Homo sapiens: one gene and its partners. The protein of the gene in region 1 interacts with the protein of each later gene in a pairwise test. Each region holds a gene or a part of one and is shown on either strand. Other genes may lie near its edges. The genes, in order: JAGN1, TMEM207, FDFT1 and KCNA1.

What was found.
Region 2: the proteins of JAGN1 (region 1) and TMEM207 interact in binary tests that used the Homo sapiens proteins (3 or more experiments, as listed by UniProt).
Region 3: the proteins of JAGN1 (region 1) and FDFT1 interact in binary tests that used the Homo sapiens proteins (3 or more experiments, as listed by UniProt).
Region 4: the proteins of JAGN1 (region 1) and KCNA1 interact in binary tests that used the Homo sapiens proteins (3 or more experiments, as listed by UniProt).

The regions. Positions count from the first base shown.
Region 1 is NC_000003.12:9,885,991-9,894,718, forward strand, and holds JAGN1 (protein jagunal homolog 1), read left to right. Parts: upstream 1-4,619; 5' UTR 4,620-4,732; coding exon 4,733-4,821; intron 4,822-6,818; exon of another isoform or gene 6,819-6,924; coding exon 6,925-7,387; 3' UTR 7,388-8,359; downstream 8,360-8,728. UniProt on the Homo sapiens protein: Endoplasmic reticulum transmembrane protein involved in vesicle-mediated transport, which is required for neutrophil function.
Region 2 is NC_000003.12:190,439,275-190,447,383, forward strand, and holds part of TMEM207 (transmembrane protein 207 precursor), read right to left. Parts: intron 2,209-8,109; coding exon 2,164-2,208; intron 1,116-2,163; coding exon 970-1,115; intron 1-969.
Region 3 is NC_000008.11:11,832,976-11,840,142, forward strand, and holds the end of FDFT1 (squalene synthase), read left to right. Parts: intron 1-5,412; coding exon 5,413-5,634; 3' UTR 5,635-6,323; downstream 6,324-7,167. UniProt on the Homo sapiens protein: Catalyzes the condensation of 2 farnesyl pyrophosphate (FPP) moieties to form squalene. Proceeds in two distinct steps.
Region 4 is NC_000012.12:4,904,399-4,912,904, forward strand, and holds the start of KCNA1 (potassium voltage-gated channel subfamily A member 1), read left to right. Parts: upstream 1-5,506; 5' UTR 5,507-6,074; intron 6,075-6,441; 5' UTR 6,442-6,980; coding exon 6,981-8,468; 3' UTR 8,469-8,506. UniProt on the Homo sapiens protein: Voltage-gated potassium channel that mediates transmembrane potassium transport in excitable membranes, primarily in the brain and the central nervous system, but also in the kidney.

The DNA of each region.
Region 1 (8,728 bases):
AAAGAGTAAGGATGTTCTTTATGTTTCTTCATGATCTGGAGAAAACAGTCAAGATATATTGTTCAGTCAAAACAAGGCAGGGTCAGGGCACAGTGGCTCACACCTGTAATCCCAGCAGTCTGTGAGGCTGAGGCAGGAGTATTTCTTGAGGTCAGGAGTTCAAGACCAGCCTGGGCAACACAGTAAGACCTTGTCTCTACAAAAAATACAAAAATTAGCTGGGTGTGGTGGCACACATCCCAGCTACTCAGGAGGCTGAGGTGGGAGGGCCCCTTGAGCCTAGGAGTTCGAGGTTGTAGTGAGTTATGATTGTACCACTACACTTCAGTCTGAGCAAGACCCTGTCTCTAAAAATATAAATAAAATAAGGCAGGGTGTGGTGGCTCATGCCTGTAATCCTAGCACTTTGGGAGGCTAAGGCAGGAGGTTTGCTTGAGGCCAAGAATTTGAGACCAGCCTGGGCAATATAGCAAGACCCCCATCTCTACAAAAAATGTAAAATAAGCCAGGTATAGTGGTGCATGCCTGTAATCCAAGCTACTTGCATGGCTGAGGCAAGAAGTTCACTTGAGCCCAGGAGGTCAAGGCTCAGTGAGCCATGATGGTACCACTGCACTCCAGCCTGGGCAACAGAGCAAGACCCTGTCTCAAAAAAAAATTAATTAAATAAAAAATAAAAATATCATTCTGAGAGTCTGTAGTTTCCCCAGGCTGCCAAGGAAATTCATGGCACAAAAACAGCTATGAACCTCTGCTCTAAACAGCTATGCCTTTGCATTAGCATCCTTTCTGTATGACCATTTGCATTTTCTTTTTGAGACAGGGTCTTGCTCCGTTGCCCAGACTGGAGTGCAATGGTGTGATCATGGCTCACTGCAGCCTCAACCTGCTGGGCTCAAGTGATCCTCCATCTCAGCCTCCTGAGTAGCTGAGACTACAGACATATGCCATCCTGCCTGGCTAATTTTATTTTTAGAGATAGGTTCTTGCTATGTCGCCGAGGCTGATCTCGAGTTCCTGGACTCAAGCAATCCTCCTGCCTCAGCCTCCCAAAGTGCTGGGATTATAGGCATGAGCCACCATGCTCAGGGTCTCATCATGTTGCCCAGGCTGGCCTCAAACTCCTGAACTCAAGCAATCTTCCCACCTCAGCCTCATGAGTAGCTGGGACTACAGGTACATGCCGCCGCAGCCAGCTTATTGTTTGGCTTTTGAACCATGTAAATGCATTACCTAGTCAACATTTTAAATTAAAAAGATATTCTTAGGCCCAACTTTGGGGAATGATTCATTTGGGTAAGGGTGGGGCCCAGAAATCTGTGTTTTTAACAAGCATCTTGGATGAGTCTATCACAGATGGTTCTAGACCAGGCTTCACAGACAGCAAAAACGATGAGAACTAATGTGGAAGCAGGTGATCCTTGGTGCAGTAAGATGGGTCCCAAAGTGTCACCAGGATTTCCACAGGGCAAAGAAAGACATTCTAGAGAGCCTGGGGGGAGGTGACAAATATTCCTGGCCCATTTCCCCAGAGGTCCCGAACCCTCTTAGTTATCCCTCAGTGGGTCCTGAACCGTCATCCCTTAAACAGGACAGTAACAGATCTGGTAGTAAAAATCCTGCAGCCCTAGGGCCACTTTGGTCTGAGTTCTTATAGTGCAATTGCTGCGTGATCCTGGGCAAGTCACTTCCCCTTTCTGAGCCTTAATTTTCCCTTGTGTAAGATAATGATAACAAAAGTAATTATCTCCAAGGGTATTGGAAAAAGAGAATGAGTTCACGTGTGTGAATATGCCTGGCATAGAGTAGGTACTCAATAAATGTTGCTGATTTCTTTTCTCTCACTCTGTCGCCCAGGCTGGAGTGCAACAGTATGATCTCTGCTCACTGCAACCTCCGTCCCCCAGGTTCAAGCGATTCTCCTGCCTCAGCCTCCCGAGTAGCTGGGACTACAGGCACGTACCACCACGCCTGGCTAATTTTTTGTATTTTTAGTAGAGACGGGGTTTCACCGTGTTAGCCAGGCTGGTCTCGATCTCCTGACCTTGTGATCTGCCCGCCTCAGCCTCCCAAAGTGTTGGGATTACAGGCGTGAGCCACTGCACCCAGCCTTTTTTCTTATTTTTTTAAAATTTGAGACAGGGTCTCACTCTGTTGCTCAGGCTGGAGTGCAGTGGTGTGATCTCAGGTCACTGCAACCTTCGCCTCCCGGGTTCAAGGGATTCTCCTGCCTCGGCTTCCCAAGTAGCTGGGACTACAGGCATGCGCTACCACACCCTGATAATGTTTGTATTTCTTTTGGTAGAGACAGGGTTTCACCATGTTGACCAGGCTAGTCTTGAACTCCTGACCTCAAGTGATCCACTGCCTCGGCCTCCCAAAGTGCTGGGATTACAGGTGTGAGCCGTGCCCGGCCAATGTTGCTGATTTCTTGCTTGCCTTTCTCAGATCCCAGCCACACAGACTCCCTTCCTAGTGTGAGCCCCTTGCTGGTCATATGTGCTCTTGTTACCCACCTACAGATGTTAAATCCCAAGGAACTCAAATCTGTTCCTCTCTGTCCATTGCCACCTCCTAGCCCAAGCCACCCCTAGGATTGCCTGAATTACTGCAGTAGCCTTCAAGTGATTCCTCTGCTTCACCCTTGGCCCCTGCAAGCCATTCTCTACACAGCAACTAGATCTATCTTTATTTATTTATTTACAGACAGTGTCTTACTCTGTTGCCCAGAATGGAATGCAGTGGCATAATCATGGCTCACTGTAACCTTGAACTCCTGGTCTCAAATGATTCTCCCACCTCATCCTCCCGAGTAGCCTGGACTACAGGCACGCACCACCATGCCAGTTAATATTATTTTATTTTTTATTTTTGTAGAGACGGGAGTCTCACTATGTTGCCCAGGCTGATCTCCTGCCTTGGCCTCCCAAAGTGCTGAGATTACAGGCTTGAGGCACTGTGCCCCCACCTAGACCTATCTTTTAAAAATGCAAAACTGTGTCATTTTCCTGGTTAAACCTTTTAGTGGTTCCCCAAACCCCCTGGGATAAAGACTTAACTCTTTACTGAACCCTCCAAATGCTCCAGTCACTCTTAAGTTTCTCAGTTCTTTGAAGAGCCAAGTGCTCTCTGGATTTGGGGCCTTCACACATGCTGTTCCCTCTGCCTGAAAAGCTCTTCCGCTCCCCACCTCTTTAGCCAATTCCCACTCAGGCTTCAGACCTCAGCTCAATTGCTGCCACTCCAGAGAGACTTTCCTAACCCTCCAGGTCAGGGAGAGAGGCCTCATTTTTCCTCCCTCAGCCTCCTGTGTTTTCTTGAATTTCTTAGCTTCATGGGTACAAGTTCTTCCCCCGACTGGGCTGGGATCCCTCAGGGGAAATGGACCATGTTTATTTCTGCGTCCCCAGGTCATAGCAGAGCATCCTGGTGCATGGAAGATGCTCACTATACATGCTTTTTTCTTTCTTTTTTTCTTTATTCGGATAATATAACTTCTTTCTTTAAAGTTTCGCTTAGTATTTTGTTGTGGTAAAATGCACATAACATAAAACTTACTATGTTAATCATTTTTAAGTGTACAGTTTCCGTGGCATTAAGCACACACATATAGTTGTGCAATCAGTACCACCATCCATCTCCAGAACTTTTTTCATCTTCCCGAACTGAAGCTCTGTACCCATTAAACACTAGCTCCCCATTCTCTGTCCACCCCTCGAGCTTCTGGCAATGGTCATTCTACTTTGTCTCTACAGATAAAGTTTATTTGGAAATAATTTTTCTTTCATGGCCTTGACATTTTTGAAGAGTACAGTCCAGCTCTCTTCTAGACTGTCCCTCCGTCTGGATTTATGTCATTTCTTCATGATTAGATTCAGTTAGGTATTTTTGGCAGAAACATCATAGAAGTGATGCTGTGTCCTCAGTCTATTAAAAGAGGCACAAGATATCAGTTTATCTCATTATTGATCAAATTAACTGACTATATGTTTAAGGGAGACAAGCCAGATTTCCTCACTGAGAGATTCCCTGTTTCTCTTTGCAATAATTAAATGTGAGAAACTTATTTTGAGACAAAGTCTCACTCTGCACTCTGTCCCCCAGGCTGGAGTGCATTGGCACAATCTCGACTTACTGCAACCTCTGCCTCCCTGGTTCAAGCGATTCTCCTGCCTCAGCCACCCAAGTAGCTGGGGTCACAGGAACCCACCACACCTGGCTAATTTTTGTATTTTTAGTAGAGACGGGATTTCACCATGTTGCCCAGGCTGGTCTTGAACTCCTGACATCAAGTGATCCACCCACCTCGGCCTCCCAAAGTGCTGGGATTAAAGGTGTGAGGCTGTGTGAATGATGTGTGCTCCAGGGAAAGTCATAGAATATATCAGTTTCCCCCTCTGTAAAGTGTGGACAGAAGTATCCTAACTGATATTACAGCTTAAGAAAGTAAAAGTGTTCAAGCGGCCTCTGGGCGCCAGCAAAAGAGGCTGGGGATTAATTTCCTGCGCGCTCCACAAGAGGCGGGGCTGGGCGGGGCGGGGGCGAGAGGGAACGAGGGCGCCTGCGCGGAGAGGAGTGACCATAGAGTCGGTCCTCCAGAGACAGAGGGGCCGGAAGTTCTCTTCACGGAGCCGCGCGGCTGCGGGGGCGCAAATAGGGTCAGTGGGCCGCTTGGCGGTGTCGTTGCGGTACCAGGTCCGCGTGAGGGGTTCGGGGGTTCTGGGCAGGCACAATGGCGTCTCGAGCAGGCCCGCGAGCGGCCGGCACCGACGGCAGCGACTTTCAGCACCGGGAGCGCGTCGCCATGCACTACCAGATGAGGTATGAAGTGAGGCGAGGAGCACGGAGGCTTTCTCCCCCGCTGGAGCCTGCGGGGCTTGGGGAGCGACGCCGGCCCGGCCTCAGGGTCTTGCTCCCCAGCCAGCCCCCGCTCACCTGCCAAGTCCCCTCCTCCCGTGACGGCTTCGGGCCTGTCCCCCATCCTGGAAAGCCCCGTGGCCCCCGCGAGCTCCACCCCTTGTTCCGCCCGGTGCCTTGAGGGGATCCAGCCCCGCGTGGGCTCCCGCCCTGCGTGGGCTCCCGAGTCACGTCGATGCTGGCCCCGCTGTATCACCTTCGAAACCGAATTTCTAATTTGAGCCTCAGCTTCCTCATCTGTAGAGGGAGAGAATAATCTGCCTTTTAGGTTTTGGTGAAAGATTAATCAGTAATTCGTGTAAAGAAAGTAGCATAAGGCCTACCACGTAATATATGGTAGGTGTTATATTTTGGGCCGTTTGGGGGGATATAGACAGTAAAAGGCAGCCTTTCCTAAGGACGCCTTGCCTAAAATGAATTTTATAAACACTCCCACGTAAGGGGTATTTCTACATTCAATTACTAGTTCGACAAATACTGAGCTTCCAAACATCATACACTGCTAGACACTAGGTTATAATAGTGAGCAAAAGCAGACGTGGTCTTTGTATACATGTTATACCTTCAATAAACAATTTTATTAAAGAAAAAAAAAACTGTTCCCTGCCTTCATGGAGCTTGAAGTCTAGAGATGACTGTTTTTTTTTTCCAACCTTTCCACATTTTCTACAATAAATATTTTTAAATAAAAATTTTAAAATTTTTACTTCCTTAAATCCATTGATCTCTCCCAGAATGTTCTTCACATCTCTCTCTCCAGAGTTTTAAAGAATGACAAGCTCTTTGAACTCTCATTTGTTTCACATCTCTAGGCCCCGGCTGAAAGGGCCCTCACAACTTAAGCAGGTGTTTTCATGCCAGCCCAGAGTAGAAACATTGCCTTTAGGGATATGAGGAGGATACGTTTGGGACGTGAGAGAATTAGAAGAATAAGATAAGTATGTACTTCTTTTGGATGAAAAAATCTAGCTGGAGAAGTATGGGCGGCCTGAGTACGTTTCCTCTCTGCCAATACCTTCTCCCGCCAGACTTTAATCCTATGGTGCAGTCAGCGTCCTCTTGCTAAACACAGCTCTGAGCTACCCTTCTGCCTTTATTATTATTATTAATTTATTTATTTATTTTTGAGACGGAGTCACGGTCTGTCGCCCAGGCTGGAGTGCAGTGGCGCGATCTCAGCTCACTTGTAAGCTCCGCCTCCCGGGTTCACGCCATTCTCAGCCTCAGCCTCCCGAGTAGCTGGGACTACAGGCGCCCGCCACCACGTGCTGCTAATTTTTTTGTATTTTTAGTAGAGACAGGGTTTCACCGTGTCAGCCAGGATGGTCTCGATCTCCTGACCTCGTGATCTGCCCGCCTCGGCCTCCCAAAGTGCTGGGATTACAGGCGTGAGCCACCGCGCCCAGCCCTGCCTTTTTATTAGTAGTATTGTTGTTGTTTTTTTTTTTTATGGAGATGGGGTCTCATTTTGTTGCCAGGCTGGTCTCGAACTCCTGGGCTCAAGCAGTCCTCCTGCTTCAGCCTACCAAAGTGCTTGGATTAGAGTTGTGAGCCCAGCCTCTTCTACTTTTAACTCTCATAGTCTTTGTGATTCATATCCCACTACCCCTCTCCCCCTAACAATATGTTCCTGCCACACATAACCACTTGCTTTCCTGGAACACAAATACTTGGGCCTTTTTGTCTGCATGCTCCTGCATGGGATGCCCATCTTCACTCATTCCTGAGCCTAGTTCAGATATCACCTGCCTCTAGATAGCCATCTCTGACATTCCATGCCAGGCAGAGTTGATTCCTCCTTCCTGTGATCCCATATATCTGGGAACATATATTTACTAGAACTTTTTCACTTCATTTTCTAATTACTTTTTCCTCCTCTGTTCTTTGTGTCCGGCTTCTAGGCTGTTTTATTCAAATTTGTATCCCAGTGTCCAGTACAGTTGTCTGGCATATAGTTGGTGGTAAGAAAAATTTGAAAGATACTTCTCCCTCTGCTCTGCCCCACAGTGTGACTCTCAAGTATGAAATCAAGAAGCTGATCTACGTACATCTGGTCATATGGCTGCTGCTGGTTGCTAAGATGAGCGTGGGACACCTGAGGCTCTTGTCACATGATCAGGTGGCCATGCCCTATCAGTGGGAATACCCGTATTTGCTGAGCATTTTGCCCTCTCTCTTGGGCCTTCTCTCCTTTCCCCGCAACAACATTAGCTACCTGGTGCTCTCCATGATCAGCATGGGACTCTTTTCCATCGCTCCACTCATTTATGGCAGCATGGAGATGTTCCCTGCTGCACAGCAGCTCTACCGCCATGGCAAGGCCTACCGTTTCCTCTTTGGTTTTTCTGCCGTTTCCATCATGTACCTGGTGTTGGTGTTGGCAGTGCAAGTGCATGCCTGGCAGTTGTACTACAGCAAGAAGCTCCTAGACTCTTGGTTCACCAGCACACAGGAGAAGAAGCATAAATGAAGCCTCTTTGGGGTGAAGCCTGGACATCCCATCGAATGAAAGGACACTAGTACAGCGGTTCCAAAATCCCTTCTGGTGATTTTAGCAGCTGTGATGTTGGTACCTGGTGCAGACCAGGCCAAAGTTCTGGAAAGCTCCTTTTGCCATCTGCTGAGGTGGCAAAACTATAATTTATTCCTGGTTGGCTAGAACTGGGTGACCAACAGCTATGAAACAAATTTCAGCTGTTTGAAGTTGAACTTTGAGGTTTTTCTTTAAGAATGAGCTTCGTCCTTGCCTCTACTCGGTCATTCTCCCCATTTCCATCCATTACCCCTTAGCCATTGAGACTAAAGGAAATAGGGAATAAATCAAATTACTTCATCTCTAGGTCACGGGTCAGGAAACATTTGGGCAGCTGCTCCCTTGGCAGGCTGTGGTCTCCTCTGCAAAGCATTTTAATTAAAAACCTCAATAAAGATGGCCCTGCCCACACTGTGCCTTGTGTTTGGGGCTTGATAGAGTGTGAAAGGTGTGTTGCTTGAAAGGTGTGGCCTTAGACACTAGGAGATGATGGGTAGAAGCTCCTTGAGAAACCTAGCAGTGGCCATAGAGAAGTAGACTGGGTATGGGGAACCTAAGTCATAGTTGTAACCTACAGCTGATTGGTAAGAACTATGGGCCAGACATTTAATCTCTCCATCTATGAAATAGTCCATTCTCATTTATCTACCTTAGGTTATGGGCTCTTCTTTTAGTTGGATATTCACATTTATCTTTCAGTGTTAACTGGGTATCAGTTATGAGTCTACTACTGTATAATGGCATCCAAAAGAATTTTAAAGTACCTCGGTTTATAGGGATTTACAATTCAGTAGAAACTTGTTATTCATGTGAAACAGTGAACATAATATCTAATGATGTGGAGCAAGTACATTAAAAACAGGAAGGAAGAGATCTGTGATTAAACTAAAGGCCCTTTCACACCTAAAATTCTGGCAGTATTTATTGCATGAAAGATAATGTGTCTCTTTGCACTTGATTTTATTGTCTCTGGATGATGCCCAGATCTGTAACTGCAGAGCTCTGCCCTCTCCAGAGATGTAGTCATTATTTTGTTCTAGAAACATTGTGTATGTAGTTAGTCATTACTGAGTCACTTTTTTTTTTTTTTTTTTTTTAATTGAGACGGAGTCTTGCTCTGTCGCCCAGGCTGGAGTGCAGTGGCACGATCTCGGCTCACTGCAAGCTCTGCCTCCCGGGTTCACACCATTCTGCCTCAACCTCCCAAGTAGCTGGGACTACAGGTGCCCACCACCACGCCCGGCTAATTTTTGTATTTTTAGTAGAGACGGGGTTTCA
Region 2 (8,109 bases), about 180 Mb from region 1:
GTCAATATAATCATTATCTTGGAAAACTAAGTTTGATGTTAACAAATTTTTGTTTATTTTTACCCCACTTTTCATCTTGCTGTTAGTTTTCCCCAGGGCACACCCTGCTCCATCTATTGTAAATTTCATGGTGGCCCAGTTTCTGAAAGACGGCTTTAGCTATTATCTCTGTTAAGCGCTCCCGAGGTAACTGTAGTGTGTAATGCAGTAACTTAGAATAAAGTCTCACAACAGTCCCTGCTTGAGCCAATACTTAAGATGAAGAAATAGCTATCAATTATGGCTTCCCAGAAATCAGTAAGTTGTTTTTTTCTACTCACAGCTAAGGCTGGCAGCTGCAAATAACTCTAAGCCCTGAATTTCCTCTGTTCTTTACTTCCTTATGCAAACTGGAAAATGAAGGGAAGGGCATGGTTTTGGGAGGGGAAGTTGGGAGCTGACAGGATCAGGACGCTGAGATGAAAGGGCATGAAAATTGACATTCCCCTGACTATTCCATGGAATTTCAGATTCTGCATTGACCGCAGACATCTGGAAAGTGTCGTTCAATGTTACTTCAGATGAGTTCAGTAAAGCATAGAAAGCTCAGTAAATGAATTTATAAATACAAGTTAAGACAGGTTGATAATAAAAGCTCAGAGATGCTTTGCAGTACCCTAAACCCTACCATTCACCTGGACTGCCCAGCCCTGCATACTTCTTCTCTTCTGCTTATTGAACAACAAAATATTTAGTTGCTTTCCTTATACTTAACTGTGGGTCAGTTCCCAAGACACATTTTCTTTCTTCTGGGATTGTCTTTCTTATGAAATTTTCTCCCTTAAACTCTCCTCAGTGCAGGCCTTGGTGTCTCCAATAAGCCACATCTTTTTCTAAGTTCCCAGATCTGCTTTTGGGAGAACAGTTTTTCAATTAACCGCAAAACCACAAAGTATCAAAAAAGAGTCCAGAAGCGTGCAGACAACTCACCATAAATAGAGTCCAAGTCTCCAACAGCAAAAACTGCCATGGTGCGCCTGTGAGAATCAATTCGGGGTCTCCTCAGCCAGCACTGGAGGCAGAGGACCACAGCTCCACAGAGAAGAGCTGCCACCAAAACCAGCAGCAGGAGGATCCTGACTCCAAAAGTAACCGAGAAAAGAATGAGGTAGAGTATGCAGGGAAGTTAAGAGCTTCCATCACTACCTAGAAGTGGGGTGAAGACTCAGCTAGACTGGCCGCAAGCAATGTGGGACACTGAATTCCTTAAGCAATTTCCTACCACCACCCATACATTTCCACTGAACTGAAAATATTCTTTGGCCTCAGAAAGGGTTGATCTTTCCAGGTGGTAATAATCATTTTCTCCTTAGAAATTGGAGGGTTATTCTAAAAGACAGAGTCTTAATTCATTCATCCATTCTTCCTTTCAGACATCCATCCAGCCATTCATCCATCCATCCATTCAGTTAGTATTTAAGCAACTACACACACTTTAGATATTGGGGATAGGAATTCAAAAGTAGGCAGAGGGGCCGGGCGCGGTGGCTCAAGCCTGTAATCCCAGCACTTTGGGAGGCCGAGGCGGGCGGATCACGAGGTCAGGAGATCGAGAACATCCTGGCTAACACGGTGAAACCCCGTCTCTACTAAAAAATACAAAAAATTAGCTGGGCGTGATGGCGGGCGCCTGTAATCCCAGCTACTCCGGAGGCTGAGGCTGGAGAATGGCGGGAACCCGGGAGGCGGAGCTTGCATTGAGCCGAGATGGCGCCACTGCACTGCAGCCTGGGCGACAGAGCAAAACTGTGTCTCAGAGAAAAAAAAAAATCTGAAGGATTATCTCATAGAAGAGACAGTGGTCATTTGGAATGCCTTTTAAGGCCAGAACTAATATCAGTGGAGGGTCATTTAGGGAGATTTCAAGACAAATAACAATTATTTTGCTGTTAAAGATTTTCAACTCTAGAATAAGCTTATTTTTTAAAATAGTGAGTCCTTTTGTCACAAGAAGTGTTTAAGTAAACATTGGCCAACGATCTGAAAGTGATGTTTCTATATTCATTTGCATGACCCCTAATCTTTCCTTAAGCTGTATGATTTCATGTACCATCTCAAATTATTTAGGACAAAGACTGTATATACCACCAACTGTCATATAAAACAAATGGAAGATATCCTTACCAGATATACCAGCCATTAGGGTGTTGGTCATTATAATTTACACACCTGGTGATAAAGGGAGAGCGTTAGTCCTGGAACTCAGGATAGCCAAAGCCTATTTCTTTCACCCAATAAAATTGGTACTGATCACACTTGTTTCTCCAGAACAGTCACCTACATATTCCCATACCAGCCCATATCGTCCCGCACCCAGCACAATTATGCAAATGTTTATGCCCACTCAATTCAAGGCACTGAGAATACAAGTAAATGTGAAATTATCAGACTGATACATAAACAGATAAATGCATTATAATGGGTTTGATTCTAGAGTTACAAATACTGTTAAGCATTGAGAAGGCAGTGACTTAACTCTTCAGGGACAACAAATCGTAGGTGTTTGGTATTAGGTAGATAACCATTATAGCTATATTCTGTTCATCTAGAGACCTACAGTCATGTAAAACTCAAATTCTCCAGGGAAGAATATCTTGGTAGAGAATAGGAGGCATTGGACAACTGTTTGCCCTCTTGTTATACAATTGGTGAGGAAAGAAATTAGGCTAGGAGGAAAATGAATGAACGTGGCCATACCTACCATTTACCAAGGAGTTAGAAGTTGACTCCTTCAGTCAGGAAGTTGACCCTCCTGTGTGTGTCTAGCCACAATTCAATCTTTCTTGAGAGAAGTTTTAAAATATCGCAGACAGACAAAGTTCACAGAGTGATTTTTGGGAGGTATAACTCCGTAGGTGTAGAGTCCCTCACTATGCCTAACATGGCACACTAAATGTATGTGGGCTGATGGACTTTTTTCATACCTCAATATACAAGCTACTTTTAAGGTATTCTGAACTGAGCTTGAACAGTGGAAATCTGTTATTCACAGTCAGATACACTTCTGAGAAGACACTATACTTAATCATATCTTCTTCAGCCATTGTTAAAATAACTCAGTTCATTGCAGTTTGAAGACATTCATAAATGTCAGTTAATTTATTGCATCTAGCTTCCCTGAGGAGGCAGTGTGTCATCCCATCATCATACCAGTCAGAAATGACTTTTAACATATGTGAAGTGTCAATTTAAAAATTCTATCACAAACATTTAAGACAAAAACCAATCACCCAGCCTACAGATGATTTCATTCCCCTCCACATATAAATCTCTGCGTCTTTTTCTTTTGTCTGTTTTCTGTTTATTTGCTCTTTGTTCTTTTGAGCGCCCAGAGTGTTTAGCAAAATTCACAGGTATGGCTGGAAAAAAAAAAATGGCAACTGAAGTGTGACTTTGAAAAGCATCCTAAGACAAATGGCCATGAATAAAAGATGTGAAAAATAATTAATGGGACATACTTACAAGGGAATATTATTCAATCATCAAAAATAATGTAAACATGTTTATAAATAAGTCTTGCTACATAAAATAGTATAGAGACTTCAATCTTACTTTGTATATATTATTTTCTACAAGTACAATGATTTCGCCAAAATTACTACCAGACATAAATTTACACCAGACTACTGAAGTGCCCACTTCTCTTGAAGATGGCATTATGAAAAACTCTATCCCTTTCATATTGTTTGAATTATTGTAATGTACACGAATCACTTTGTAGTAAAAAGAACTTTAAAATATTGTATTAAAAAATTAAAACCTTAAAAATATACATTTTTTAAGAGACAGATGTGGGGAAATTCTCTTGGTGTCCTGACACAATTAAAAAAGCTTTTTTTTTTTTTTGTTTTGTTTTGTTTTGTTTTTCTTTTTTGAATTGTGACATCTAAGCTCATGGTCAGGAGTATGGATTATTTCATCTTCCTCCTCTTCCTTTACTTTTTTTCTGTTTGAAAATAGCCCCTTTACTTATCGTTAAACTCAATTCTAAATATTAACCACCTCATTGTGTTTCTTAAATCTAATTTTTAAGGCCCTCTATTTTTTTTTCTTCCTGGGCTAACAATTTTCCAAACCAACTTTATTTCACTTTTTTTTCTGAGCTGGTGCACCCTCTGGTGGAGTTTCTGATAAGAAATAACATGGCTAGGAAGCAGTTAGCTGGAGAAGTGCAGTAATCATGTAAGCTCCAAATCGCAGGCATCTTTGAGATCATTTATTGACCTTTAGGATTTTGCACAGTGTACCACTGAGACTTAAGGTGGAGAGAGGAAGAGGGGAATTCACTACGTAGTCAGAGAACTACACTGGAACATGTGTCTTTTGGCTCCATATGCTCCCCTCCTCGAATCATTATTTCCATTTCTCTCTTAAATTCAAGTTGTAAACAGAAACTTTTTGAGTTCCTAAAAAAGTAAGAGTATTCTAATTACTCAAATATTACTTCCAAGATATTCAGTATAGGAAAGGTTATATTTTTGAAAATGAAATTATTCCTCAGGGATTGGTCAAATTGGTATGATTATGGTAAAAAGAAAATCATCGGGGGGAAGTGAGAGCTGACTATAATGCGTAAGAAAGACATTTGGAATAAGAATTATCTAGAATTAATTGTTGAGGGAGATAATTTCTGTCCTTATCAGAACGATTTCCTTTTGTTACTTTGATGTCATGGAGATGATTTCTGTGCAATACGAATGGTTAGATGAGTTGATCTTTATTCTTCTTCTCTGTGCTGAGAATCTGTGGACCTTAGATTACACATTTATGAATTTGATAAATTCAGGAAGAAATATGCAGAGTTGCTTCATTGGTTTCTCTGTTACATCACTCAGCATTTTCTAGGGCAGACACTCTTCTAAAACCAGATGCGTAACTTCATGTGAAATAACGGACTCTCAAACTTACACCACTATACAGTAGGGTCATACTATTATAATTCTCCTTTTACAACTGAGAGAACTCAGTCACAGAGCCATTAAGTAACTTGCGCAAGTTAGCATAGCTGGAAGTGGTAGAAGTAGGTTTTCAACCCAAATGCTCTGTCTGCAGAGTTCATGTCTCTTATCACCATGTCGTGGTGCGACTGGGACAGTAATAGCCAGCTCTAACCTCATAGTACCATGTGGAGTATTGCCTGAATGAATCCAGTATCCCGTGTTCCAAATGCTTTAAGGAAATACTGAAAATTAAAAAAAAAAAAAATAGAAATGAGAGCCTGGTGAGGATCAGACAGAGAATAGGCCAATAGTGAGATCAGTTTGTAAACCGAATATAGTAAATACCGTATATAAAATTTGAATTGAACTGTAGATCTGACTTAAGCTTCCTAGCAGCTAGCATAATGAGAGAGAATATTGGTTATATAGTGTCCTCTAAAATTAACAAAATGAACAGCATTACTCACCAGATGTACAACTATTCCTGGCATCGAAACCAGAGAAAAATTCAAGCTATGAGGCCTCATAAAGAGAACACTGTTAACATAAGAACAATGTTTTCCATAGTATTCTCAGAATAAATTCAGTAACAAATTGCATGAATTTTTTTTTATTTTTAAAAAGTCATTCCTCAACATAGGCCAAAGTGCAATTCAGCTACAGTAATTTGAGGGATGGATGAGTCACAAATCATATTACCCAGAAACTGGTAGTAAATTGTATAGTATCTCAAAGAATGAATGGACTATGCATATCTCAGGTATTTCACCAGATGTATAATTGATTAAATGTTGGATATACAATATAACTTTGTGGTTGAAATTCTGGGCTCAGGAGTCTGTCCCAGGTCCAAGTCCAAGCTCTGCCTTTTAACTTGCTTTCCTACTCTTGAGTAAGATATTTCACTTTATCAAGCCAAGCAAGATGTGGTATATCATTAGAAAATCTATCAATGCAATTAATTTACAGAATCTTTTATATGTATAGTCATATTTATATTTCATAAATCAATCTATTTTTGTTCATTCATGCACATCAGTGTCCTTGGCTATTTATCAGAAGAGGACTAAGTCAGAAGTATGATAAGAGGGGCTCTGTCATGCTTTATTTCATAAAATAAATTACTTATAGCATTTAAATTTTATACAAAGACAGCACAGCAAAGCTTTGTTCATGTTAAAAATACAGTTAGAAAAGTAAAATAATTGGATTGGATCAGAAAAACGTACCCTGGTGTTGAAAACAAATTTAAATAGGGAATAATAAAATAGACCAGTGTTGTTGTTATTTGAGACGGAGTCTCGCTCTGTTACCCAGGCTGGAGTGCAGTGGTGCGATCTCGGCTCACTGCAACCGCCACCTCCCAGGTTCAAGCGATACTCCTGCCTCAGCCTCTTGAGTAGCTGGGATTACAGGTGCGTGCCACCATGCCCGGCTAATTTTTGTATTTTCAGTAGAGATGGGGTTTCACCATGTTGGCCAGGCTGGTCTCGAACTCCCCACCTCAGGTGATCCACCCACTTTGGCATCCCAAAGTGCTAGGATTACAGGGTTAGCCACTGCGCCCGGTCGACCAGTTTTGTTTGTTTGTTTGTTTTAATGGAAAATATATGCAAATTGTTTCGCACAATTCTTGGAACATAGAAGTTGATTAATACATATGTTTTTATTTCTAGCTAATCAGCACCTCCTCCACCATGGCCTCTACCTAGGCGATCCATGTTTCATGTTTTTACTTTGATGCTCCCTTGCATTCCAATCCAAGTCTCCCTTTTCTGTGTCCATTTTGCATGTGAACTTTGGACAAGCTACTGTCCTTTTGTGTTTCTCATTTTTTAAAAGACATTTGGAGTAGGCCATCTTTACGGTCCTTTTCACTGTAATCTGCCATGTTTGTGTGTTACTCTCTTATAGCAGTGCTGGTAAATGGATGAATATGGTCTCTTGGCTGGGTAGTGTATTTTATCAGGAGATAATGTCTCAGATCAAAGAAGTGATTTGAAACTGAAATCTCTTGTATAAATATAGTTAGAGAAAGAGGATTTTTCTTGGAGGGGACTTTTTACTCCCTCAGAAAACAGCATGACTTTCCTTACAGATTCATTCCGCTGACACTGTCTTGCGATAACAAAAGATTTGAGATATTGTGCACGTCTTCAATACATTTACTTACCTTATATGACCACCCTACATTCCCAGCCACTCTCTTTTTTGTGTTTATTTTCTGCCAATTTACATTTCATTTGAGGGTTAATTTTTTTTTGTTTTTACTCAAAAGCAATTGTATTGAATAATGATAACCATTACAGACACTTAGTTGCAAAATGATGTAGCCAGAGAATGTGATGCCTAAGTACCAGTTGAAGCCCTACTACTCATTTACTATTTCTCTTAGGTTTCAATCCCTTCACCTAAAAGGGAGAGCGGTAGCCTCAGCTACCGCTAAAGTCAGCATAAAAACTTTCTTAATACCGTATGTTTCTGTCACGTTGATTAGAGTTAGATTCAACATTTAAGATCCTTTCCAATTCTGAACTTCTTTATTTTGTTAGTCTGGGTCAAAGGCAGAAGATGAGGAGATAAGATAAGGGCAGCCAGGAAATCCTGAGTCAGATAAGCATGCAAACAATCAAATACTCTGTTACATCACAAACAGCATAAGACAGAGTGAAAAAGCAGTTCCAAAATTAACGTAAAGAAATAGCAATCGAGAGCCATGCAAAAGCTGAAAGAGCAGCACAAATTTAATAAGCAGATTGTTAACAATAAGAAGATCCACCAGAAGCAGGTGAATGGTCCCAATTTCTGCTGTGAAATACAGTCATAGCCTCCTGCTATACAGAGAGCATGGCTTTGAGTGTAACAGGCAATGAAGACTGAAAACAGCTGCTAACAGTAAGGGCTGCAAGCAGGAGAAGATAGTGCTGGGTGGAAGTGCTTTTCTGATACTAAATCACAATGAATTACAGATATTAATTATCAGTATCATTATTAATGGCACCTTCTCTTCATCTCCTGAATAGAATTCTGAGAACCATTAAGTCTATCGCACAAAAAGTGAAAAAATTGAGTCAATTGTTCACATAATTCATATCACAAGCACTTTGAAATAGACACACAGTACAGGTTA
Region 3 (7,167 bases), on another chromosome or scaffold:
AGCGATTTCTGATTTCTCTTGCATATTGCACATTCTTCTTATACTTCCTCCCTACCTTTATCTGACACAGAAATGCTGTATGTCCAGAACTTCTATCAGAGGCACCTATGGAAGTCTAAGGGAAGACCACATCGCTTTTAAAAACCCTAAAATTTTGTAGTCACTAGATGAAAATATTCAGCCAGTGACCCAAAAAATTGCTACCAATGAGACTCTCCATTTTGCCATGTAGCCAGAACTTACTTTGATCTATGTGCCTGGGGTAGTGACCAAGTAGGTGGGTAGGAGTAATCTCAGGGAAACTTGAGGCCCCAGCCTCATGGCTAGGGTCATAATTTGAACCCAGGTCTGTCTGACATCAGAATCCATGATGTTAACCCCAATTCTAAGGGGTTCAACTACCCTTTCTAAATGGAATCCTGCTATATTAAGCACTATTTATTCATTTTATATAAACTAGAAACATTTTATGTAGTAAGTAGTTGAGAGTGTTTTGGTTTTGCAGTTTGATCACTAGTTTTAGAAACCAGTTTTTAAACACTTTGTGGCCAATTCCATTACTATATTAAAATTCAGATTTATTTGGTTTTTCCTTAACTATTGGGATTAAATCCTGGTTGTAATTCATAGTTTGAGGGCGAGGGTGGGCAGTCTACAGTTGGCTGAGCCCTGTTTTTGTGAATAAATGTTATCAGAACACAGCCACACCCATTTGCTTCTTTGTCTTCTGTGGCTGCTTTTGCAATGTGACGGCCGAGTTGAGGAGCTGCAACAGGCGATGACTTGTAAAGCTGAAAATATTTTTTGGCCCTTGAATAAGAGGTTTGCTGACTTCTGACTTAGGGTATCAGTTGTTCTGTTATCCCAGTAAAACTCAAGGCATTAGGGGAGAAATGTTAATATTAATACTTAAGTTGATTTGATTTAGGGAAATCTTTGAAGATTTCTAAGTCTTAAGCAGTAGAACCTGTTAATGGTTTTAGTTTCAGCAGTAAGGACATTTTACAAGTAAAGTTTTAAATGAAAACATTTTGTATGAAGCCACAAGTCGTCTGGCCTCTTGCTGGTGTCCAGATATTAACACTGATCCTATTTCTCCTTGCTGACCAAGTCTGTCCTTTGTAGTAAGAAAGGAAGAAACGTTGACTCTGTCCGATCTCTGGACTTAGTGTTGTAGCGAGCATGCACCTGGAAGGGACTTGCCAGAGGACCTCCTCATGCTTCTCCAGTGCTTAGTGGGGGCTTGGAGTGCAGCCCCAGGTCTTCACGAGCAGTTGGCCACACTGCAGGGCCCTCACCCCACTCTGGAGCAGCCTCTGCTTCAAACCAGCCTGGATGCTTGTCAGCTGGGGAGAAGATCAACCTGCTATTTTGGGATAGAAATAAATGCTCAGCCAAACGGCCAGAAACCCCCATTCCCCTCTCTGCCAAAGTGAATTCCTTGGCAGGGAGAATCTTGTTCGTGTCTCTGCACACTTCCTGTGCCCTCCTGTGGTTAAGTCAGAGAATCATCCGGCTCTTTGAGCCCCAGGTGCCTAGCTGCTCAAGGATGGTCCCCAGCCAGCAGCTGCCAGGAATCACCTGGGAGCCCATTAAGACATCCAGCCCCCACCCAAACGTATCGAATCAGAATCTGCCTTTTTTTCCCAAATGATGTTTTTGCTTTAATGGAAGTTTAGATGTTCATAGACAAGAGTTTTAAATGATGATCAAGCTGATTCCATATTCGCAGTTGTAAGTAGAACTGCTGAGACGTGGAAGTACCACATGGACTCACAGAGGAGCTGCTGTATGTAGCACAGCATTGCACAAGAGCTTATTTCAGTCTAGTAAACATTTATAGGAGCCTGTGTCATTTAATCATCAAGCCTCGCACTGTGGCTCACACCTGTAATCCCAAAACTTTGGGAGGCTGAGGCAGGCAGATCACTTGAGGTAAGGAGTTCGAGACCAGCCTGGCCAATATGGCAAAACCCTGTCTCTACTAAAAATACAACATTTAGCCAGGTGTGGTGGTGCACACTTGTCATCCCAGCTATTCCGGAGCCTGAGACATGAGCATCGCTTGAACTCGGGAGGTGGAGGTTGTAGTGAGCTGAGATGGCACCACTGCACTCCAGCCTGGGCAACAGGGTGAAGGCCCTTTCTCAAACCCCTCAAGTATTTGGCTTCAACTTTATGCCGGGCATGTAGATGAAAAGTCGGCTATGACCTGTCCTTGACAAGCAGATGTAACTCCTTGATTGAGGCTAGTAGGTTTTTAAGACCTGAATAATTGAGTTTGCAGAAACCTACTGTGTGCCTTCAGGTAAATGGAGAGTGGGGTTTGGTCTAGCAACGAAGCATCTAGAAGGTCCCTTTGGCCTTACCGGCTCTGTTTTAGGTAAGTCCACGTCTGAGTACCAGTGACTGCAGCTCTTCCAGTTGTGCTGTCATGCTTATATGTTAGAAATGATCATCAAAGGACTCAAAAGTTTTGCCACTAATTGTATTACCGGGGACTGTCACAACCAAGATTTCTCTTAATTTATTCACCTTACTTATCTCCTGGAAGGGCATATTGAAGTGCTCTTGGAGTTCTCTAAAAGGGTTTTTGTTGGTTGTGTATATTCACTTGGGTGCCAGCGATTGATTCCAAATAAGTAAATCTTTTTTCCCAAAAGGATGTAAGATGGCTTATGGTTATAAGTACAACAGGCTAACAAAGTACAAGTAGATGAGAAAGTAAAATGAAGAAATAAAGTCATAGGAGCCACAGAATTAACCCAGGAATGAATAAGTGTGTAGTTTGGTGCTGATGTTATCATCCTTTATTTGTACATTGCTTGTACAGTTGCTCTGAGAAGGTAAGTCTTAAATTTTCAAAAGTGAAATGTCACCGAGCATGGTGGCTGATGCCTCTAATCTCAGCACTTTGGGAGGCTGAGGCAGGCGGATCACTTGAGGTCAGGAGTGCGAAACCAGCCTGACTTATGTGATGAAACCCTGTCTCTACTAAAAAAAAAAAAAAAAAAAAAAAATACAAAAGTTAGTTGGGCATGGTGGCAGGTGCCTGTAATCCCACCTACTTGGGAGGCTGAGGCAGGAGAATCGCATGAACCTGGGAAGTGGAGGCTGCAGTGAGCCAAGATTGCACCACTGCACTCTAGCCTGGGTGACAGAGCGAGACACCATCTTAAAAAAAAAAAAAAATCTACAATATACCAAAACCATTACTTACCTGAGAAACTATTCTCAGGGTCATTGTAGTGAATGCCTATTTTATGGCTTTTGATGGCATCAGGGCACTCAGGTCATTTACAAGAGTAGTGTGTGAGACCCTGTGTGTCACTGCCACTCATCTTGGCCTTCGGCCACTGCTGTAGCAACCAGTTTCCAAGTAGGGCTGGACCTTGCCTTCTGCTCCAGAGACCTCTCGCTTCCTGCCCTTGGGCTTCTGACGAGCTGCAGGAACTGCCTGGCACGTGGGTCCCCACAACCCAGAGGAGGTGAGGGCCACCTCTCTGCTCCTCAGGGCCACCTTTCATAAGGCTCCTTGAAGGTCCCTCAAGATCAAGCCAACTCAACACATCCTTGATAGGCCTTCCTGCCTTCTGTTTCACTTCTCCACTCGTTTCCAAATAAATGGCTGCATGCAAGCTTTTGCCTCAGGTTCTGCTTTTAGGAGGAAGGCTAAGACAAGCAGTAAAGCAACATGGGCAGGCAGAAGGATGACTTCTAATAGAATTATCTCATCACTATATATTTTACTTTATGGATGCTTGTATTGAAAAGTCTTGGCTGGGTGGAGTGGCTCACGCCTGTAATCCCAGCCCTTTGGGAGGCCGAGGTGGGTGGATCACTTGAGGTCTGGAGTTTGAGACCAGCCTGACCAACACTGGTAAAACCTTGTCTCTATTAAAAATGCAAAAATTAGCCAGGGATGCACGCTTGCTGTGTGCCAGCACAGGGCTAGGCTGGAGATAAAAAGGTGAGTAAGTAGGTGCGGTGTAGTCAGGGTGAAAACTACAGATGGTCCATTTCCACGTAAGTGGAAAGGTAAAGGTATGTACAATAGGGTGGCTCCTGGCTGAACCTGGAGCTGCAGACAGGTTTTCTAGAAGGCATAATCCTGAAGTTGAGACTTGGGGGCCTAGGTAGGAGCCAGTTGAAGGGACGTGGGAGGCGCATTCCAGAGAGAAGGAGTGGTATGAGACTGGAACAGAGGTGTGCAGCAGCATCGCATGGGCGAAACAACAGTAGACAGTTGTTCTTTTGTTTTTGTTTGTTTTTTGAGACAGGGTCTTGTTCTGTCATCCAGGCTGGAGTGCAGTGGCATGATCTCGGATCACTGCAACCTCCACCTCCCAGGCTCAAGTGATCTTCCCACCCCAGTCCCCAAGTAGCTGGGGGACCACAGGTGCATGCCACGATGCCCGGCTAATTTTTGTACATTTTGTAGAAACAGGGTTTTACTGTGTTGTCCAGGCTGGTCTTAAACGCCTGAGCTTAAGCAGTCTACGTGCCTCAGCCTCCTGAAGTGCTGGGATTCCAAACATGAGCCACTGTGCCTGGCCCGGCAACTGTTACTAGACTGTAGAGAGGGAGGTGGGCAAGGGCTGGTGACACTAGACAGGTGCAGTAGGTCTGGACCATGGGTGGCCTTGCGCTACACATTACAGAGCTCAGGCTTTTTTTCTCCAGGTGAGAGGGCTGGTGCCACTGAGGCATCAAGCAGAGGTTTGAGATCTCCTTGGTGACAGTGTAGAGCAGACAGGTAGATTTGGGAATTTAAGCTTAGACTCACGTTGGAGACTGAGATAGCTCATCTGAGAGGCACTCAGGGCCTAATCTCAGGCAGTAATTTTAGGGATGTAGGGGAAGAGATGGATTCTGCACATACTTGGGAGGCTTGTGGAGGAGTGGGGAGGGAGGCACAGGGAGGACTCCAGGGTGGTTCATACGGCTCCCTGCTTCTGTTCCTGTCCCCCTTTGTCAAGCTGTGGTCTGTACTGCGTGTTCCATCTTGTTTCTAAGCTGCTTTTGCCCAGTCTTTCCAGCATTTCCCTTTCGTCATGTTAGTCTGTGCCTGTCTACGTGAACTATGGTGACGTTTATTGGGCCTGGCACTGTGAGGTGCTGGGGATGTGAAGATCATTGTGGCTCAGCCGCTGCTCTCGAGGGCCTCTGGGTGCAGTATGCACACCTGTGCCTCCTGTTTGCTCAGGAAGACAGGCTTTGAGATGAGCTGGGGCTGACATCCCCACCTTATCATTGGGATGGCTTTGGGTAAGTTATGTTCATGTTCTCTGAGCCTCCCTTTCCTCATTGGTAAAATGGGTATAAAATACCTGCCAGTGGAGGGTTGTTGTAAGTAGCCATGGAAAATGTAAAGCACATAGCACTTATCATTTTTTCCTGTGTCTTTAACAGATTTATCATAGAATCCCCGACTCAGACCCATCTTCTAGCAAAACAAGGCAGATCATCTCCACCATCCGGACGCAGAATCTTCCCAACTGTCAGCTGATTTCCCGAAGCCACTACTCCCCCATCTACCTGTCGTTTGTCATGCTTTTGGCTGCCCTGAGCTGGCAGTACCTGACCACTCTCTCCCAGGTAACAGAAGACTATGTTCAGACTGGAGAACACTGATCCCAAATTTGTCCATAGCTGAAGTCCACCATAAAGTGGATTTACTTTTTTTCTTTAAGGATGGATGTTGTGTTCTCTTTATTTTTTTCCTACTACTTTAATCCCTAAAAGAACGCTGTGTGGCTGGGACCTTTAGGAAAGTGAAATGCAGGTGAGAAGAACCTAAACATGAAAGGAAAGGGTGCCTCATCCCAGCAACCTGTCCTTGTGGGTGATGATCACTGTGCTGCTTGTGGCTCATGGCAGAGCATTCAGTGCCACGGTTTAGGTGAAGTCGCTGCATATGTGACTGTCATGAGATCCTACTTAGTATGATCCTGGCTAGAATGATAATTAAAAGTATTTAATTTGAAGCACCATTTGAATGTTCGTAATAGTAGAAAATGATGTGAATTTTCTTTCTGTTCGGCTCCTATTTTTCTCATCATTTTGTTTTCTTTAATTGGGTTGAATGGAGTAGATAGAAATATTTATGGTTTAGGTAACAGTTAGATGTTTCCTAAGAATGCAAACTGCCTTTTCCACACAAAGGCTGGGAATAAAATTCTGGGTATTCTCGTATTCTCATTTAAAGGAGTTTAGCTTTCAGAGAGAAACAGCAGGATTGCTTTTGACCTTTTAGAAGATTGGTCTCCAGTAAAGGTGGACATTTTTGAGATTTTTATAATAAAGAATTTAATTGCTCTGCATTTGTCAAGTACAGTTCGCTTGAAAGCCTGCCTGACTGTGGAAAAGATGGAGCTCAAGAATGGAGTTGATGGCCCAGCGTGGTGGCTCATGCCTGTAATCCCAGCACTTTGGGAGGCTGAGGCGGTCGGATCACGACATTAGGGGATCGAGACCATCCTGGCTAACACGGTGAAACCCCGTCTCTACTAAAAAAAAAAAAAATTAGCCAGGCGTGGTGGCGGGTGCCTGTAGTTCCAGCTACTCGGGAGGCTGAGGCAGGAGAATGGCTTAAACCCGGGAGGCGGAGCTTGCAGTGAGCTCAGATCGCGCCACTGCACTCCAGTCTGGGCAACAGAGCGAGACTCCATCTCAAAAAAAGGAAAAAATTGTAAAAAAAAAAAAAAAAAAAAAAAAAAAAAAAAAAAAAAAATTTCCCCCAGCAGTTTTTGTTTTCTAAAGTTATCAGTTTATATATTCAGGTCTTAAGAAAGGCAAAAGCTGTCTTCAGGTGATTGGCTTGGGGGCAGAACAGTACTTCTGCTCGGGGTTTCACCTTCCTCTCTACTCCAGTGCAGCAGAGCTTGTGATGTGCTCTCACTGAGGTGCTCAGTGCAGCAAGGAGGCCTGTGGACCCTCGAGTTGAGAATTGGTGTACTAGGGCATTCGGTACTTTCTAGAAGCCATTAATGCTACAGGTACTCATAAAGTCTACTCTTCTGCAGCCCATCGTGGATGGTGGCTTAATCATTGAATTTGAGTTGTTTCGAGCTGCAGCGTTGGATTTGCATTGTTGTAAGCACACTTTCTTGCTGTGACCACTGACACCAAAATTAGTTTGGGCCCAGGGAGACTTCAGTTAATTGG
Region 4 (8,506 bases), on another chromosome or scaffold:
ATAATGCCACCAAGAGGACTCCATATTACTCATTGTCATCTTAAATCCTTGGTGACTTCTGAGTTTTCCCTTTCAAGTCCTACTTGTTCTATATTACTTTTTACAATTATACTTCAAATCTTGTAAGACCCCCATTCCTCTGCTTGTGACACTGCCCTCAACAGGGTCTATAGTGAGTCCGTGGGCATATTCCTGCCTAGTATGACCACCTCCCTTCATGCCGTCTCTTGCCTTACCACTGTATAACACTTAAGAAACTGATCTTAAGAAGGACACTACATGTAGAACGAGTGCACATTTTTTCATAAATGATCATCAGGACGAATTCTATCCTGACTCACTTCCAAGTTAATCTCAGACACCCAGTGCCCAATTACTTAATTGCATGGTTCCTCACCACAAGTGAGCCCTCGGTGCTGCCAGGCAACCCTGCTACATTCCCCAACCCTTTCACTTTCCAATTCTCCTAAGTGGTTATTTTGCAGTTTTCCCCTCCCATTTCTTTTCTTTTATTTGCTTTTTTCTTTTTTCGGAGATGGGGTCTTGCTCTGTTGCCCAGGCTGGAGTGCAGTGGCTCAATCTTGGCTCACTGCAACCTCCGCCTCCTGGGTTAAAGTGATTCTCTTGCCTCAGACTCCCAAGTAGCTGGGACTACAGGTGCACGCTACCATACCCAGCTAATTTTTGTATTTTTAGTTGAGACAGATTTCACCATGTTGGCCAGGCTGGTCTTGAACTCCTGACCTCCAGTGATCCACCCACTTTGGCCTTCCAAAGTGCTGGGATTGCAGGCATGAGCCACCACGTCTGGCCACCCCTCCTATTTCTAAGGCCTCCTTCCCCATCCTCACTTTCAGCTGATGACCTTGCTTTCCTTTTTACTGAGAAAATTTCTTCTGATTGCATAGGTGAATGTCCACTAACTCCCACAACTTCTACTCAATTACTTGCAGCTGACTTCTGCTCTCTGTCTCTCTCCCATTTCTATAGAGAAATTGCCCTTTTCCAAGGCCAATCCCTTATTTTGGGTCTTAGATTCCATTCTCCTTTTGCTTTCTCAAGAACATTGCTCTGATTTTTCTCTTTCTACCACATCACTATTTCTTTTCTTTCTACTGAGTCATTGCCCTTAGCATACAAACATATTGTAATAGATTTCATCATTTTTTTAAAAAAAGTCTCATCACTCATCATCTTCCTTCAGTCTACTACCCCATTCTTCTGTTCCCCTGGGCACCAAAACTCCAAGAGCTGTTTTTACCTACTGTCCTCAGTTCTCTCTCAATCTCTTTTCAACTCAATTTTTCTAAATCTGATAGTCATTTCTATGTTCCTCATTCTACTCATCTTACTGGCAGTAAGCAACAATGTTGATATCTCCCTTCTTCTTAACATACTGTTCTCATTTGGTTTTGCAGACCCCACATTCTCCTGTTTTGTTCACCTCATCATCACTCCTTCTCAGTTTCCTTTGGTGGCTCTTCCTTCTTTTATCGACCTCTCAGCATTAGAGCGTCCCAAGGCATGATCTCTGCATATTTCCTCTTCCTTTTCTACCCTCAGGTTCAAGTGCTGTAATCTCTGTAATCTGCTACTCTGGCTTTAATTACCCAAGTGGTTCTCAGCTGAGGGTGATTTTTGCATTGTCTGGAAACACTTTTGGTTGTCACAACTAGGGGAAGGTGCTACTGGCATCTAATGGCTGGAAGCAAGGGAAGCTGCTGAATATACTAAAATCCACAGGACCACACCCCACAACAATAAAAAGTATTCAGCCCAAATGTGCTAAAGTTGAGAAACCTTGATCTACCCAGACCTCTTCTCTGAACTCTAACCTTGTATGTTTAACTTTCTACTCAACATCCTCATTTGCATATTTCTAGGTATCTCAAAGGTAACATGTCCCAAACCAAAGTTGTGATTCCCCATGCCTCAGCTCAGCTTCCCTAGAAAGCATAACCCAAGACAGGATTATGTGCGAATGCTTTAATGGGAGGTGTGAAGCCAGAACCATGAGAGGAAGAGAAAAGGAGAGTGAGACAGGGAAGGACAGGGTGCAGATCCAAGGAGAAGAGTTACCAAACTAGTTACTGCTTCATGAGTCACAAAGAGACACAGCCTTTTCATTAGACCATGTGGTTGCTTGGCCATGAAAATAATAAAGGTAGAGGGGATTTACCGACGAGCTCCATCCTAGCTTGCATCTCCCACTGGGCAAGCTCCTCTTGGTCCATTGAGCTAATGCACCCCTAGGTTTGTGTTACTCACCTAGGCCTTTTTGCAGTCTTGAGGAATCCAGATTCCACTCCTTGCAGTGCTGTCAACTTCAAGAGGCAGAACTCTGCCACCCATCGAGTTGACTTTTCCAGCAGCACCTGCAGTGGGGCAAGTGGCCATTGGACAAGACAATGGTGAGCTGGAGAGAATCTGAGGAGATGGCCTACGCTGCCCAATACAGTGACAACTAAGACACACAAGGTCTCAGACTTCAAGGAGCTCCTAAGCTGCCCAACACAGAAGATCTCAGAAGACACAGAAGATCTCAGACTTCAAGGAACTCACATCTAGGTAGGAGCGAAACTGTTTGGGACACTCCTGCAGTAAATGATATTACCATTTATCTGGTTATTAAGGCCACAAGCCTAGGAGACAGTCCTAAAACTTTTCTTTCCTCACATCCCAAATTCTGCCATCTCTATTTCAAAATGTAATTCTCTTCCAAAAACTCCTTACAAGCTCACCACAGTCTCCCTCATCTAAGCCAACATTGCTTATGCTACTTAGTAACCTCCAACCTTGTGTCTTGTTTCTAGTAGCCAGAATAATCTCCAAGAAATGCAAATCATATTGCTATATTGATGCATATCCTCCAGTAGGTTCCCATTGTACTCAGAATGAAATGAACTATTCTTACCATAGCCTTAGAGGCCCTGCATGATCTGGGCTCTGCCTGCCTTTCTGACCTACCTTTGATGACATTCTTTCTCAGTGACTTCTTTCTGGCCATACTGGCTCTCTTGTTTCCTGAATATGCTGAGTCTGTCCTTGCCTTGGGACCTTTGCTCTTACACCCATCCTTTCATCTTCCTGTTCCTTGCTCTCTCTTCTTGATGTTTTTTGTTCAAATGTTACTTCTGCAGAGAGGCCCTTCTTATCTGCAAACCTATATTTGTCACTTGCTGTGCCTGATTCTTAATTTTCTTTATCTAACACTATAATGTATGACGTATATGTTTATTGTCTGTATCTCCCACCAGAATATGAGCTCCATGAGACCTGGGACCTTATATGTCTCCATTCCAGTGCAAGGGCACCATCTGGCCCATAGCTGGGGCTGGGCAAATATTTGTTGAATTAATAAATATCTTCAGACCCTTACCAAGGGAGGACTTCCATCAAGAATGCTGAGTTCCAGTTAGCCAGGAGTGATGGCTTGTGCCTGTTGTCCTCCCAGTTACTCCAGAGGCTAAGGTGGGAGGATTGTTTGAGCCCAATACTTCAAGGTTGCGGTGAGCTATGATTACACTACTACACTCTGTCTCAAAGAAGAACAAGAGGAAGAAGAGGAAGAGGAAGAAGGAGGAGGAGGAGGAGAATGCTGAGTTCCCAGCTCACAATTTTCTTCCAGTCCCTTGGAGGTCCAGTCCTGCTGTAAACACATCTATCAGAGATGTGGAAGATTTCCTAATATGCCCCCCAATAAAACCCGGAATTTAGGAACCTGGGATCTCATCCAATCTGTGAATCCCTTGTAGTAAGGCAATCTCCTAATGCTGAGTCAGGGCACATGCATTCACAAGAAGCTAGGAAGATGACAGTCTTAGGGACATTTAAAGGAAGGCAATGGGTTATAGGAAGAGGGAGGTACAAGATAAGGACAGATAAAGTGGAGAATAGGGAAGCTCAGTAGTGCTAGGATATGGTCAGAAAACCCTTGTCTCGTAGGGTTATCCCCAGTAGGGTTCTAGCAGTGGCAGCAGCAACAAAACCAAAAGACTTGGCAGTACTTCAGCTGGGAGCTTCATATTTATATCTTTGTTTTTATTTTTAAATTTTTTTAAAAAATATATTTATTTGCATTAGAACAGCAGTGCAGAAAGGTAGGGATCCCTGGAGCTATTGAGATTGAGGGATATGCGTGTGGAAGGTGGGAAAGGGGAAGAGTTTAATATGGGAAGGAGGAGTATAAGAGAACTCATTGTTCATGAAAGAAAAGCTGGGGTACGGATCTGAAGGAGGGGAGGGAACATACACTTTTGTTTTTCTGAAAGGAATGCTGGCGTCTGAATCTGGAGGAAGGATTTAACTAGTTCCAGACAGGGACTGTTGCACTGCCTGGGCAATCCCGCAGGGGCCCCTGCTTTCCACTAGCCACAATAGAGCGGGAAGGATGCAATCATTGGCTTTGATTAAGGAGGTGGGTGGTGTAGGCGGGAGGCAACGGTGGTGAGAAGGGTGGTCCCAAGGCCGCGGGAGGAGCCAATCAGCGGCGACTCTGGGCTCTTGCAGCCTCCTTAGAGACTCCGCAGCCCTGGAGGTACCAAGCTGCCTGCTGCCTTTTCTCGCGCTGCAGGCGCGGAGATGCAGCGCCTCTGGGGGCGCAGCTCCAGCCGCACTCGCAGGGCAAGGCACACGCCCCCGGCTCCTGCTGCCATGCGCCTCTGCGGGGGACCCTTTCCAAATAAATTGCAAGCTTTGAAAGTGGCCCTGTGGAGGCACTAGGCTGGGGAAAAAGGCTGCGGGAGGAGGGACATAGGGTGGGAGGTGAGTAGGCGACTTGCTTCTCAGATTATTCCCAATTAGCACCAAGTTGGCAGACAACCCCACAAACCCACGAAGCCTTCGGTCCCCCACAAGTCACATTCCCTGTATTTCAGAATAATCGGATCGTAAGAAAACTTCAAGTCCCATCGTAGGTTAAAGAGGGACAGGCTCTTAGTACCGCCGCCGCCCAGTAAAACTACATGGAACAAACCCAGGGATCCTCATCTGCACAGCTCTGCCCAAAGTCTGCAGCTCTGCGAGTCCAGCCGGCGGGGGAAGCTGGGTGGGCCCCGCAGAGAGCAAGGGCCTTCTTGGGGGAGGAGCGGGATGGGGCGCAGAGCAGTGCGATCGAAGAGGGTTACTGTGGGACTGCACAAAAGCAAACCCGTCGGAGGAGTTTTGCCAGAAACACCACCGCCTGCATTGCGTCGGACCTGACCATTTCCAATGTGAAATTCCCGGGGAAGGTCGCGAGCCGCTAGGGGCCGTTCGTGGGCGGGGCGGCGGGCCACAGGGGAAGTAGAGTTAGCGGTCGGCTTTTCTGGTAGGAGAGGAAAAAGCTGTGCTGGCAAGGGTGGGAACTGAATGACAACCCCGCTCTCTTCCAAACCACCCCCTCATATTTTCCATCCACCTCCTCGCTCCTGCCCTCCCCCGCCCTCCCCAACCCACGCCCGGGTGGGCCAATCGCTGCTCGGTATTCCAGGCGCTTTCTCAGGTTTCTGCTGATCTTGCAGCGCCCAGAAATGGACCGAGCGGACCCGCCGCCGCACGCACCCTGCTCCACTCCAAGCTCCTAAGGGCTCCTGGCGCGCCGCGTAGCCTTGGCGAGGTCCGCGCTGGGGTGCGGAGAGCGAAGGGAACTGGAGAGCCATGTAGATCCAGGCTCTCGCCCGCCCGCCTCCTTCGGGATCGAATCAAGGGCTCCCATAGTGTTAGGAGGGGGCGAGAGTGCTGTTTATCGTCATTTGCCTCGGAGCTTCGAGAGAGGGTGGTATTTTGCTTTTCCGCCCCGCATCCTCCGGAACTCCCTGCACCGGAGAGAGGACGGCGTCTCCAGGTTGCTGGCAACCGGTGAGAATGGGGGTAGGGAAGGAACATTTTCGCCGTAGCTGCTCCGTAAAGCGATTGTCCAACTGAGAGGGGCGTCGGACGAGTGGACCAGGGCGGCGAGTTTGCCCGGCGCGTCTCGGATGCTGCTGCGGCGGCCGCCGCGGCTCCCGCCAGGGCACTGCAAAGACGACCTGCCGCATTCCCACTCGGGCTCTCCGCTGACTCAGCACCGCCCCTGCGCCAAGCCAGCCGGCCAGGTAGGGGGTTCCCCAGCTCGGGGATGCAGAAGCGGGGGTTGGGGGGACCGGGTGGGGGAGGCCGGGGGTGCGGGGATGCTGTCCGGGACCCTGAGCTTCCCCCGGCGTCTCTCGGCGCTTTTCCGATCTCTAGTTTAACGAAGTTGTAAACAGATCGGCTGTTGGGCATTGGGGAAAGTGGGATGGAAGAGCCCCAAACTTGGATTTCCGGGTGTCTGCGTGTCGTCTGTCCGTGTGTGTGTGATAGCCCTAGCAAACGTCCAGTGCTTTCTCAAGCTAGAGGTCTGTGTTCTTCGGTGTCTGTAGGTCCGTCCCATCTGAATGCTTCTGATTTTCTACCCCCGTATCACTTTCTATTTCTCTGCAGCGTGCATCGATCGCCCTGGTGGGAGCTTAGAAGGCGGCAGGCGAAGAGGGGTAGGAGGGGGGAGAGCCGAGGAGAAGCAGAGAGGGTGGCAGGCGTGGGGATCTGCCGAGCCGGCACTGCACCGGGTCCTAGGAAGGCTCTCGGAGGGGAGGGGAGGCCAGGGCGACCCCCGAAGCAATGGCCCAGTCCGCTAGAACGGCACTGCGTTAAGGCACCTGGGATCAGGAAGAAATATCTAAACAACAACAACAGAAAACCAACAAACCCCCAAACCCAAACCCAACCCTCTGCAAAAAGCTGCACCCGGCCCGCAGGCGAGGGGGATTCCAAACTGAGTGAAAGGCAGGGTGGAGGGGAAGGCAGCGAGAGGCAAAGTCGCAGATCTCCCGACCTGCTCGTGTTGAAGCACCTCCCCCTGGGCGTGAGGGAGACGCGCGCTCCGGTGGGGGGGCCGCTTGGGTCCCCCCCACCCCTGGTCCCTGGCTGCTTCCCACCCCGGGCTCTCTCCTGGCCTCCCACCCCCGCGCCCGGCTTCCACCATGACGGTGATGTCTGGGGAGAACGTGGACGAGGCTTCGGCCGCCCCGGGCCACCCCCAGGATGGCAGCTACCCCCGGCAGGCCGACCACGACGACCACGAGTGCTGCGAGCGCGTGGTGATCAACATCTCCGGGCTGCGCTTCGAGACGCAGCTCAAGACCCTGGCGCAGTTCCCCAACACGCTGCTGGGCAACCCTAAGAAACGCATGCGCTACTTCGACCCCCTGAGGAACGAGTACTTCTTCGACCGCAACCGGCCCAGCTTCGACGCCATCCTCTACTACTACCAGTCCGGCGGCCGCCTGCGGAGGCCGGTCAACGTGCCCCTGGACATGTTCTCCGAGGAGATCAAGTTTTACGAGTTGGGCGAGGAGGCCATGGAGAAGTTCCGGGAGGACGAGGGCTTCATCAAGGAGGAGGAGCGCCCTCTGCCCGAGAAGGAGTACCAGCGCCAGGTGTGGCTGCTCTTCGAGTACCCCGAGAGCTCGGGGCCCGCCAGGGTCATCGCCATCGTCTCCGTCATGGTCATCCTCATCTCCATCGTCATCTTTTGCCTGGAGACGCTCCCCGAGCTGAAGGATGACAAGGACTTCACGGGCACCGTCCACCGCATCGACAACACCACGGTCATCTACAATTCCAACATCTTCACAGACCCCTTCTTCATCGTGGAAACGCTGTGTATCATCTGGTTCTCCTTCGAGCTGGTGGTGCGCTTCTTCGCCTGCCCCAGCAAGACGGACTTCTTCAAAAACATCATGAACTTCATAGACATTGTGGCCATCATTCCTTATTTCATCACGCTGGGCACCGAGATAGCTGAGCAGGAAGGAAACCAGAAGGGCGAGCAGGCCACCTCCCTGGCCATCCTCAGGGTCATCCGCTTGGTAAGGGTTTTTAGAATCTTCAAGCTCTCCCGCCACTCTAAGGGCCTCCAGATCCTGGGCCAGACCCTCAAAGCTAGTATGAGAGAGCTAGGGCTGCTCATCTTTTTCCTCTTCATCGGGGTCATCCTGTTTTCTAGTGCAGTGTACTTTGCCGAGGCGGAAGAAGCTGAGTCGCACTTCTCCAGTATCCCCGATGCTTTCTGGTGGGCGGTGGTGTCCATGACCACTGTAGGATACGGTGACATGTACCCTGTGACAATTGGAGGCAAGATCGTGGGCTCCTTGTGTGCCATCGCTGGTGTGCTAACAATTGCCCTGCCCGTACCTGTCATTGTGTCCAATTTCAACTATTTCTACCACCGAGAAACTGAGGGGGAAGAGCAGGCTCAGTTGCTCCACGTCAGTTCCCCTAACTTAGCCTCTGACAGTGACCTCAGTCGCCGCAGTTCCTCTACTATGAGCAAGTCTGAGTACATGGAGATCGAAGAGGATATGAATAATAGCATAGCCCATTATAGACAGGTCAATATCAGAACTGCCAATTGCACCACTGCTAACCAAAACTGCGTTAATAAGAGCAAGCTACTGACCGATGTTTAAAAAACAAAGGCAAGCAAACAAAAAAGCCCCACTTAGCA